2 linked regions of the Homo sapiens genome follow. The protein of the gene in region 2 purifies or fractionates together with the protein of the main gene of each other region. This does not show direct contact. Each region holds a gene or a part of one and is shown on either strand. Other genes may lie near its edges.

Evidence for each region.
Region 1: the proteins of ANKRD54 (region 2) and DOCK1 purify together in Homo sapiens (affinity purification with mass spectrometry; 2 studies listed by BioGRID and IntAct, with this or other methods). This does not show direct contact.

What each region holds. Positions count from the first base shown.
Region 1 is NC_000010.11:127,447,375-127,453,261, reverse strand, and holds the end of DOCK1 (dedicator of cytokinesis protein 1), read right to left. Parts: intron 5,869-5,887; coding exon 5,717-5,868; intron 1,931-5,716; coding exon 1,835-1,930; 3' UTR 746-1,834; downstream 1-745. UniProt on the Homo sapiens protein: Involved in cytoskeletal rearrangements required for phagocytosis of apoptotic cells and cell motility. Along with DOCK1, mediates CRK/CRKL regulation of epithelial and endothelial cell spreading and migration on type IV collagen.
Region 2 is NC_000022.11:37,830,309-37,834,586, forward strand, and holds the end of ANKRD54 (ankyrin repeat domain-containing protein 54), read right to left. Parts: intron 3,670-4,278; coding exon of another isoform or gene 3,609-3,669; intron 3,448-3,608; coding exon 3,376-3,447; intron 2,899-3,375; coding exon 2,851-2,898; coding exon of another isoform or gene 2,775-2,850; coding exon 2,650-2,774; intron 2,437-2,649; coding exon 2,329-2,436; intron 1,710-2,328; coding exon 1,635-1,709; 3' UTR 547-1,634; downstream 1-546. UniProt on the Homo sapiens protein: Plays an important role in regulating intracellular signaling events associated with erythroid terminal differentiation.

The sequences.
Region 1 (5,887 bases), on a different chromosome or scaffold from region 2:
TGTGGATAATATTCAGTTTCTCACACACTCGACAGAAGATGAATATTTATCTTGGTGCAACAGTTGAAACAGTAAAGATTCTTGAAGAAAAAAATCCCACATTCACACAGGCCTACAGTTTCTCAGGGGTGGACTGGATATTTACAAGCATGAATACGCTGGGGACAGCACCTGAGTAGGAGGAAGAGCCTCCCAGCTTCCTGGGCTCCACAGCAGCCTCCTTCTAGGCCGGGTTAGATGGGCAGAGGGCACATCCTTATGGCTTCCACACGTCTGGCAGGAGCAGAGGTGAGAGCCCCGTCCATTGAGAAGAGAACCCCCTGCCTTCCTTGTTTCTTGCCACCCCAGATCCAGCCAGATAGGCCCTGGAGAAAGCTCTCCATGTCCAGACCTCTACAGCTAAATCACACACCCATTAACCAAAGCCCTTTCTTAAATTAGCAGCTGAAAAGAGGCCCACATGATCTGCAGCCCCACAGCCCTCTGGCTTTGGTGATGGGGAAGCACTCAGCTGGTCTCTGCTTAGCTCCTGTCTATCAGGACATGCAGCCATGCACGGGACACGGGCACTTCCCATCTGGGCTCCAGATCAGACACAATTAACAGAGAGGATTAAAAACAATGTTGGAGGAAGAGGTGCATATATAAATGTGTGTCACCAAGCACTTTAACATAGCAGAACAGAAACAGCAGCGTCTGTATTTTACAATCAAGGATGAAAACATAATTGGTCAGACACTGTGAGTCTTTTAAAATAACATTTTATTTTTCGTTGTCAATGATTAACTTTTAAGTCTATTAGAAGAGTATCATGATTATAGTGAATAAAAAAATATAGATGAGAGAATACAAATATTAGGTTATACAAAGTTAGTTTTTTAAAAATCATTGTCCACCAAAATTTTCAGGACTTTGGAGTTCTCAAAAAAAAAATGTGTGTGTGTGTGTGTGTGTGTTTTAACACTTCCAGCAGTTAAAAATTAAGAACACATATGGATAATCATTGGTGGACGCCTATTATAATAAACGGAAGGACCACAAAAATTAAAACAAGTTCTAAGAACCATCATATATACAAATTTCTGTACAGAATGAGGACAAAAACAATTCACCCAATTAAAACCAGCTCTTGTGGTACACATACTCTTTTTCAGAAAAGAACGAACACTTATCTTCCTGTATTCATTTGTTTTTCCATTTGATTCAGTATTCTTAATGCTGTTTCCACCCCATAAATTAGTAACTGTTCAATAGCTGAGAAATATCCTATTTTCAATTATGCAGGGGAAATCAGGAGCTTCCCTGGAGGGGTTGAACTTCATGGTCTGATGTAGGTTGGAGACACACCTCAACCAACGAAGTCACACCACCGGCTGGAACAAGGAGGGGCTGGATACAACATCCCATGACAGTGAGGAGGATTCTTATACATCATCACTACACAGCTTCCTAAGAGTGATGGCCTAGCCTCTCCTACTTGGCTGAGCTCAGAGCAATTGAGCTCTTTGCAAATGCAAGTCATTTGGCACAAAAAGAAAGAATGTTTGGGCAAGACTCAGACTCTCTCAGAGCCAGACACACTCAGAGGCCCCCAACTCTGATAACTACGATAGCACATCCCGGACCCATATCTACCTCCCAGACCCACCTTGCTCCATGACGCTAAAGGCCACTCACTCCATGGTGAGAACTGAACTCCTTTGAAGAAAAAGCAGTCGCACGAAATGTTAACATCACAGGCCCAATGAGGTAAACAGCAGACTCAGGGGACACAGAAGGAGAGGGCATGGAGATGGGGAGGGGCAGCACACTCTTTCCAGAGAGGCTTGCGACGTCACTGCACGATCCCGGAGTCCACCGATGCCTGCTTGCGAGTTGTCTTTGGAGGGGGAGGAGGCGGAGTTTTGCTGGGCAGTGGAGGTGGCAGATGCTAAAAAACATGAGGATGGGGAAGATGTCACATAACTGATGTCCTGACAGAAAAGACACCGTCTCCAGGTGGGGTCTGACCTGGCACAGCCACTCAGCCGGAACCATCCTCCCCACATGAGTTGGGCTCCATCCTGTCCGACTTGGGGCTGGCAGGTCTACTAGGCTCAAGACTGGGCTGCTATGGGCCTGGGCCTTTCTGACGCCTCTGAGCACTCTCCCACCGTCTGCACAGCCCCTGAGAGGTACCATTGCCCTTTGCGTGGCCTTTTTAAATCTAGATGCTATCGACCAAGTTATCCATCTATTGTCTAAGGGATAAATAAGTCCTTAGAGGCACTCTCCAGGGGTGAGATGAGAGACCTTCTTTTGCTTTCTGAGCTTCGGGCAAAGGTTAGCAAGCTTCTCCTGGAAAGGGCTAGACAGTACATATTTCCAGCTTTTTGGCAGGCCACACGGTCTCTGTTGCAGCCACTCAATGCCACTGGTGTGGCCGAAAAGCGGTCATTGACAGTGTGTACAGAAAGGGGTGTGGCTGTGTTCCAAGAAAACTATTCACAGAAACAGGTGGCTGGCTGGCTGGCTTCAGCTCATGGGCATATATTACTTTAGATTCCAAAAAAGAACATTAATTTCCAATGTGAAGATAATAGCAAACCCCTTGCTGATGGACCTGGCTGGAGTGTTATGACTGAGGGCAGCTGCACCCTATTGCTTTTGGGACCCTCATGCCCATCACACACACCTGATGTGCAGGAGACTCTCTAGAAATATGGGTCAATCGAATAGAAAAATGGATGAATGAGTGAATAAATGAATGAGTGAATAAACGAGTCAGTGGATAAATGAAGAAATGAACAGGTAAGTAAACAAATGAATGAAGAAGTGAACAGACCAGGGTAAGTGGGAGCATGCCACAGGCAGAAGAACCAGAATGAAATCACAGAACACTATCGTCTAACTTAAGGGTAAGAGTGGATTTTTATCAGCCTCTCAGTGTGGGTTTGCATTTAGCTGAATGTGAGAAAAGAGGTTTTCAAGGATAGACAGTGACGCAGTAGTCTCTCACTCATCGCCCAGATTTCCTCCTGATTCACAGACTAGTAAATACAAAAATGACCTAATGCTTAACACAGAGAGGAGAATAAATGTGGAAAAGTAAAGCTGATATAAAGATGTCCTATGAGTGTATGACCTTATATTAAGGAAGGTAAAACAACAATTAAGTCTTTTTAAGGTTGGTTAGAACCGTTAAAAGAGACATCTATTTTGAGGTCTGATGAAACTGTTTGTTTACATGTGAAAGCCACACTCACTGATAGGCCAATGAGGAGCAGGTAAGGACCACACTAACACAGCCTGATACCAACACAGCGCTGCAAATGACCTCTATGCCAAGTATGAGCATGTCAAAAGTTTATCACCATTAAGCAAAATGATTAATGGTGATAAACTCAGTAAGCTCAGATTACTGACAGGAAGAGCCATTTGGAAAGAAATGACAGCTTAGTGGCAACAACTAAAGACAGAGTTGCCTACAAGCCTGAGGCTGATCAATGAGAGTGACAGGAGGATATTGATCACACCCCCATCATGGCAGATGGATGATCATTATCCTAGAACAGCTCTCAGGGCCTGTGCAAAGGGAGGCACCCCAGGAAATGCAACCGCTTCTGCCTAATGATGACATACTAACCACCAGCGTGTCACCTGAGCATGCACTCAGGCTGCAAGTAAATTAAACAAGAAACAAAGACCAAAGACACCTGGGTCATTAATCTAATTGAATTCACACGCCCTTTATCAATTGAGAGAGAGCTAATCCATGTTATCCCTTACTTAATCAACTGTATGTGGCATCAGTAACCCACAATGGTGTATCCAAGAAATTGAGACAATAAAATGTTACCCCGGAGTTGATTTGTAACAAGAAGAGGAATTGGCTGTAATTCTAAGTTTAGAATTTTCAGTTTACTAGTGTAGGGAGACTAGGGGGAACATTCCTGCCTTTGCAATAAAATAGAGAGAAGAGAATGTGACCAATTAACGAAGCTGTTAGGGAAACAATACTCCAAGCAACCCAATATTCTTGTTAGACCCCCCCGAATCTCCTTTTACTCTCACAAGTAGTTAGAAATGGCCGGGGAAGGTCCGGCTTCCATTTCTGTGGTGCAACAAACCATTCCAGCCTGCCAGAAAGCCCTCTTCACAGGGGAACCTGGTGCCTCCTCCAGGACCGGTTCCCCATCGAGGCGTCTCTAGGGAGAGGGAGCCTGTTTAAATGGCACTTGGGTCTCAGAAGAGCAATCTGCCTCTTTGATATTAAAGATGACTGCTTGTTTAGTTTTCTGATACAAAGGGAATGATGAAATACGTATGCTGTACACAAACACCCTCTCTCTTCCACTCCTCTCATAAGGGATGTAATGACCTTGTGGAACACTCCGTCAACGAGTCTCCATTAAAAAAAAAGAAAAAGAAATGGCACGTGGGATTTATATTGTTTATTAAAGAAAAATAAAAAAAAAAACCATGTCTCACCATTATGAAAAAAACAGAGCCACCCAACAATCTCATGTTTTCAATGTTCTACAGGAGTTTTGCGGCCATATAATTACTTCACTAAGGCTGGATAGCAAAAAAAATACGGCCAGCTGTCCACATATGAAGAGGGATATTTTACCCTTCAGACACCACTGATTTAATTGTCAAAGGCTGTGAATAACATGGCCTGGGGAGGCCTGAGCCTAGAAGCAGAAGTTCCCGCCGTGGCTGAGTCAATCGCTCGCCCGCCTCCATCCCACTCATGCTGCCCTCCACACATGCCTGGGCCCGACATGAGGATGGGGCTGGGACCCGCAGGGATGAGTGACGCCTGACAGCATCCTTGAGAACCAGGAGAGGAACGGGGTGGATCTCAAAAGAATGTTTCTAGAACTGTCAACTGGTAACTGAGGTGCTTGTTTAAATGGCTTTTCATGACTTTGACTAATATTTGTACGGGCAGGCAGGCCCAGGGGCTGTTTGGCACAAGGCACTTTGGGTGGCATGAATGACTAAAACAGCTGCTGGGGGGTACCAGCTTCAGGGACTCACGCTGAAGAGGGGTTCCAGCAGGTTGCTTAGGCTTACAAAGGCCAGTGCTGCTGGAGGAAGCCAGGTCAGCACCCCCGAACTAGCACTGGGGAGGGTGCCCAGGGGTGGGGGCACAGTGAGGATGACTGTGCCCAGGAGCCAAACCTGGCTGTCCTCTGCAGTCTCCGTAAGGTGAGTGCCTGTCACCACCCAGGAGCTCCCAGCACCAGGTGAGGCTGCCTGGAGGGATGTTTGGAGACAAGCTTCTCCAGGGCCAAGCAGGTGTACAACAGGTGCCTGCCATACAGGGCGATATTGGCCAACCTCTTTAAAAAGTCAGACCTCTTGATAGAAAAGCTACTTCTCAAAAATCAAAATGTCATTAGAATTGCATCTCCAGTGGAATGATCTCCATGGTGATGATAACCGATGACAACCTTGGAATGTCTATCCTCTTCCTCGTTCTGAGGCATGATATCAAAATGTGCTTTTTGATGCAGTTATTGATAATGACGCAGAGCCACAGATCTTACCCACTGGAGTCCTTACTGCTTCGATATCTTTTTGCAAAATCAAACCCGGGCCCATCATACATGGTTTTCCTCATGTGCTCACTAGCCCGAAGTAAACCTGCTAGTATCTGGAATGAGGGACTCGTCCTACTTTGTGGAGGCGAAGCAATGAAAGCCTGTGTTTCAGATTGCCGACTTACCCTCTGGTGTGGAGGGGGAGGTGGAGGTGTTGGCGAGCCCAGCAAGTCCTGGTTTTCCATCAAATTCCCGTAATCTGCCACGCTGCCTTTGAGAGGCAGAGGGGGTGGGACATCGGCCACGTCCGCCCCCGTCATGCCGTTCAGCTCCAAGCCTGGAAAACCGGGATCTAT
Region 2 (4,278 bases):
CTCTCTTCAGGCTTGGGGCCACTGCACTTTCCCTTCCCCAGCCCTGCCAACCTGGTGGGGCACTGGGCTTCCCTCTCACAGGGTCCTGGGGACAGGCCTACCCTACATCTCATACCCACAGACAGACCCTTTTTTCCTCCAAGGCCTGGCCTAGGTTCTATGAGTTCAATGCAGATCTGAGCCATACCAAGCTGGGTTTGGGGAACACACTCTCCTCCTCTGAAAGGTAGACAGGGATTCCAACTTGGTGAAGGGGAGAGTAGGGCAGAGCCAGGCGGGACACGGACTGATCACCTGGAGAAAGTCACCATCAGCAGCCTTGGGGCAGGGGCGGGCCCAGCAGTGCCATCCCCTGGGTTTTCCCTGAGCAGGCCTCCGCTAGGAGCGCACGCTTCCTTCTGCCTGTCCATGGCCCACAGCAAAGGACTGGTGCTCCTGCAGCGGGGAGCGGGGCTGCTGACAGGACTGAACCTCAAGGTGAGTTTTTGGGGCTTCACTACAATACTAGTTTCTGGTTGCTGCTGCAATAAATTACCACACACTTAGTGACTTAAAACAACACAAATTTATTCCCTTAGAGTTCTAAAATCAGCCAGAATTATAAAATTAGCCTCACTGAGCCAGTCCAGGTGGGAGCAGGGCTGGGGCCTTCCAGGGCTCTGTGGGAGGATGCATTTCCTGGCTCTGAGGTGGCCTGGACTCTGTGGCTTGAGCTGCCCTCCTCAACTCCAGTTTCCTGCTCCATCGCTACACCTCCAACCTCCTCTCCCGTCACCTGCTCTTCTGTTATACAGACCCGGGTGAGGACATCAAGCCCTCCTGAACAAGCTGGGATAATCTTCCTGGCGAAAGATCCTTAACTTCATTACATCTGCAAAGCCCCTTTGGCCATACAAGGTAATTTTGACAGGTTCCTGGGATTAGGACATGGGCATCTTGGGAGGCCACTACTGGCCTACCACAACTGGGCAGCAAAACTATTACACCCTCCGGTATAATAGTTTTGGTGTTTCAATGACTGGGAGGAAAAGGGTTGGAATTTTTTGCTTTGGGGTCCCTCTTAACCTTGTATTTTTAAGGTCTGGGACTCACCAACCCTCCCCTTCCAACCAGAGAAACTCACTGCAGTATCTCCTTGAAAGTCTGGTGACGTGTCTGTCTAAGTGCTGGTGAGAGGCACAGGACCAACTGAGGGCCTCACGCAGTACCCCTGGCCACAGGGTGCCCGCCTAAGCCCACACCTGCTGACTGCAACAAGCCCATGGCCAGGACGGAACACAGAGAAGGGTCTGAGGCCTGGAGCGCGCCATGAAGGCCATGGGGCAAGTGAGGTCTGCTGAGATAGCGCAGGTCTGCGGAGCTGAAGTGCAGCTGCAGAGGCTGGTCTGGTGCTGCGAGAACTGGAAGAAGCTGGGAGCTGTGGTCCCTGTCCACAGAGATGCTGGAAACTGTGGCTGGGAGTGGCTCTGAGGCCGTGGAGAGAGAGCATCTCTGCCCCACGGCATCTGCGGGTGAGGGCAAGGTCCTCACCAGACAAGTGCAGCTCCAAGTCCCAGATGTTGGGCTTTTTCTTGGTACTGAGACAGCAGTGGGGCAGGGTGGGGCAGTGGCAGGAAGGCAGGGAGCCTCTCTTGCTACCTCTTCTCCATGCTCTGCATCTGCAGACTGAGGGAGGTGAAGCTGGCCAGGAGGTCAGTCACTTCATCCACCTGCAGGACGGAACAGAGGCTCTGTTATGGGACACGGGGTGTGCCAGGGCTCCTGGGTCTCTTCCACAATCCCACAGGCACAGAACACAGGCACGGTCTCTCCTCCCAGGGCGTGTGGTGGCTTCTGACTACGCAGCAGTTGACCAAGGGTCAATCTTTGACACCAGGTGGCCTAGCGCTGTCCTAGAGGGCAGGGCCATGAACACACACTAGCCACTGGCAACTTCAAAGGAAGTGAACGGAGGCTTTGAAGCCTGCAACCCCACAATCATAGGCTCTTTCCCCCACTTTTTTTGTTTGAGACAGGGCCTTGCTCTGGTTTTTTTTTTTGTTGTTTTTATAATTTTTGCCTTTTTCCACATGTTCTGAGAGGACCTTGCTTTGTCACTCAGGCTGGAGTTCAGTGGCAATCACAGCTCACTGCAGCCTCGAACTCCTAGCCTCAAGTGATCCTCCCACTTCAGCCTCCCATAGCGTTGGGATTACAGGTGTGAGCCCCTGCGGCTGGCCCCAGCCCACAGCCTCTTTCTGATACGAGTGTCTGGTGGCATCGGAGCAGGGTGGACTGGCCCTGAGGCTCCTGCCAGGCCCTGGGTCTGGGCCTGTGGCTGCAGCTCACCTGCTCTTTGGTACTGGTCATCTGCAGGCGGGTGCAGAGGTCATCCAGGCGTTCTCGCTGCTCATGTTGCCCTAGGCGCTCCAGATACTCCCTCAGCATATGGATGATCTGGAACAAGAGGGTGAGCTGAGCTGCCTGGGTTCCTAGGGAGGCAGACAGGCTGATGCTGCTTCCAAAAAGCACAGTGGAGCAGGTGCCAACTGGGGTCAGTGTGAAACAACCCAGGAGCCCTGGGACCAGAGGCAGGTGTGTCTGTGGTTAGGGCAGCATCTGTCCAGTGCTGCCTTGGTGCCGTGGTCTCCACACAGAAGGGGTACTCACCTGCTTCACCTCCAGACGCACAGCCTCTAGGCACTGGGCATGGCCCTCCTGCAGGATATTCAGCTTTGACTTGGCCAGGTGCAGGGGTGTGCGACCAGCTCGGTCCAGGGCATCTACACGGGCCCCTGCAGGTACCAGCTGAGGTGAGCATTCTGGGGGTGAGGGGGAGAAAGAGGACAGAGAGGGGAAGAAACCACATACCTCCTCGTAGCAGTGTGGTGATGACAGGAACGTGGTTGGTGCAGGCCGCTGAGGAAGAACAACAGAGACTTAAGAATCCAGGACCACCAGAGCCTGGCTCTGCGTGGCCACTGGAGGGAGCAGGGCTGTGTCTCCCAGACGCCTGTGCCAAGTTATGCCTACTGAGAAGGTATCGCCAAGGCACAGCTAGGTAGGACTCAGAAGTCAAGTTCAACTCCCTCCCTGTACAGCAGAGGAAACTGAGGCCTGGAGATAGGATCTGCCTCAGTGTGAGCCACAGTGCTGAGTGCTGCTGGGCTAGCCTAGGTTGCTAAATTGGCTCTGCCGAGGGCACAGCCAACTGCTAAATGATTGGAAGGCCCATGGGACACAGGCTGCTGGGCAGTGCAGCCCTGGGAGTGCAGGCCTAGGATCTTCCCTGACACTCACAGTTTCTGCCAGGAGCATGCCGGGCCCCACCCTCTTCATCTAAAGAGCCTTTCTTTGCTGCAAATGAGTTGTCTTAGTGACTTCTGACATGCTTACCCAGGTGCAGTGGCGTGTTCCCCAGCCCATCTCGCTGGTTAGGATCAGCACCATGGTCCAGGAGCAGCTGCACTGGAAACAGGCAAACCCAAGAGGAGTTGTCGGAGGCTTCCATTGCCTGCACCCTGAACCCCTAACCTAGCTAGAGAGGCTGGCTCAGAGTAGGGGACACGGAATGCAAGCATGGATGGCTGTGTTACTTCATTCATTCACTCACTCACTCACTTACTTACCAGAGTTCATGGGCAAAGCCCTGAGGGCCAGGAACTGAGGATTTGGGGAGGGCCTCTTGGCCTATGCAGGTGTAGGAATGAGATTTGAAGGGTTAAGTAAAGTTCTTCCAATAGCAGCTGCTCCTGGTGAAGGCTGTCCAGGGCATTTTCTGCTTCTCCCACAGCCAAGCACCATGGTAGGAATTAAGTCAATAAATGATGCTGAGCTCCATGGATAACCTCTCCCTCCTGGCAGTCTTGGGATCACCTCAGGGGTGTGCTGTATTATCACCAGGGTCTGCCAATACCCAGAAGGATGCATAGGCAGGTAGCCTGGATCCCAGACATCATACAGGGAGGTCAGGCTGAGCCTCACACCATGTACAAAAACTAATTCAAGAGGGACCATAGACATAAGTGTGAATGCTAAAACAGGCTTCCAGAAGAACATGAACATCTTGGGCAGGCAAAGATTTCTTAAATAGGTCACAAAAATACTAACCATAGGAAAGAAAAGGCCAGGCATGGGAGCTCAGGCCTGTTAATCCCAGCACTTTGGGATGCCGAGGCAGGTGGATCATTTGAGCTCAGGAGTTCAAGACCAGCCTGGGCAACATGGAGAAACCCTTTCTCTATACTAAAAACACAAAAATTAGCTGGGCATAGTGATGGCAGACTTGTAGTCCCAGCT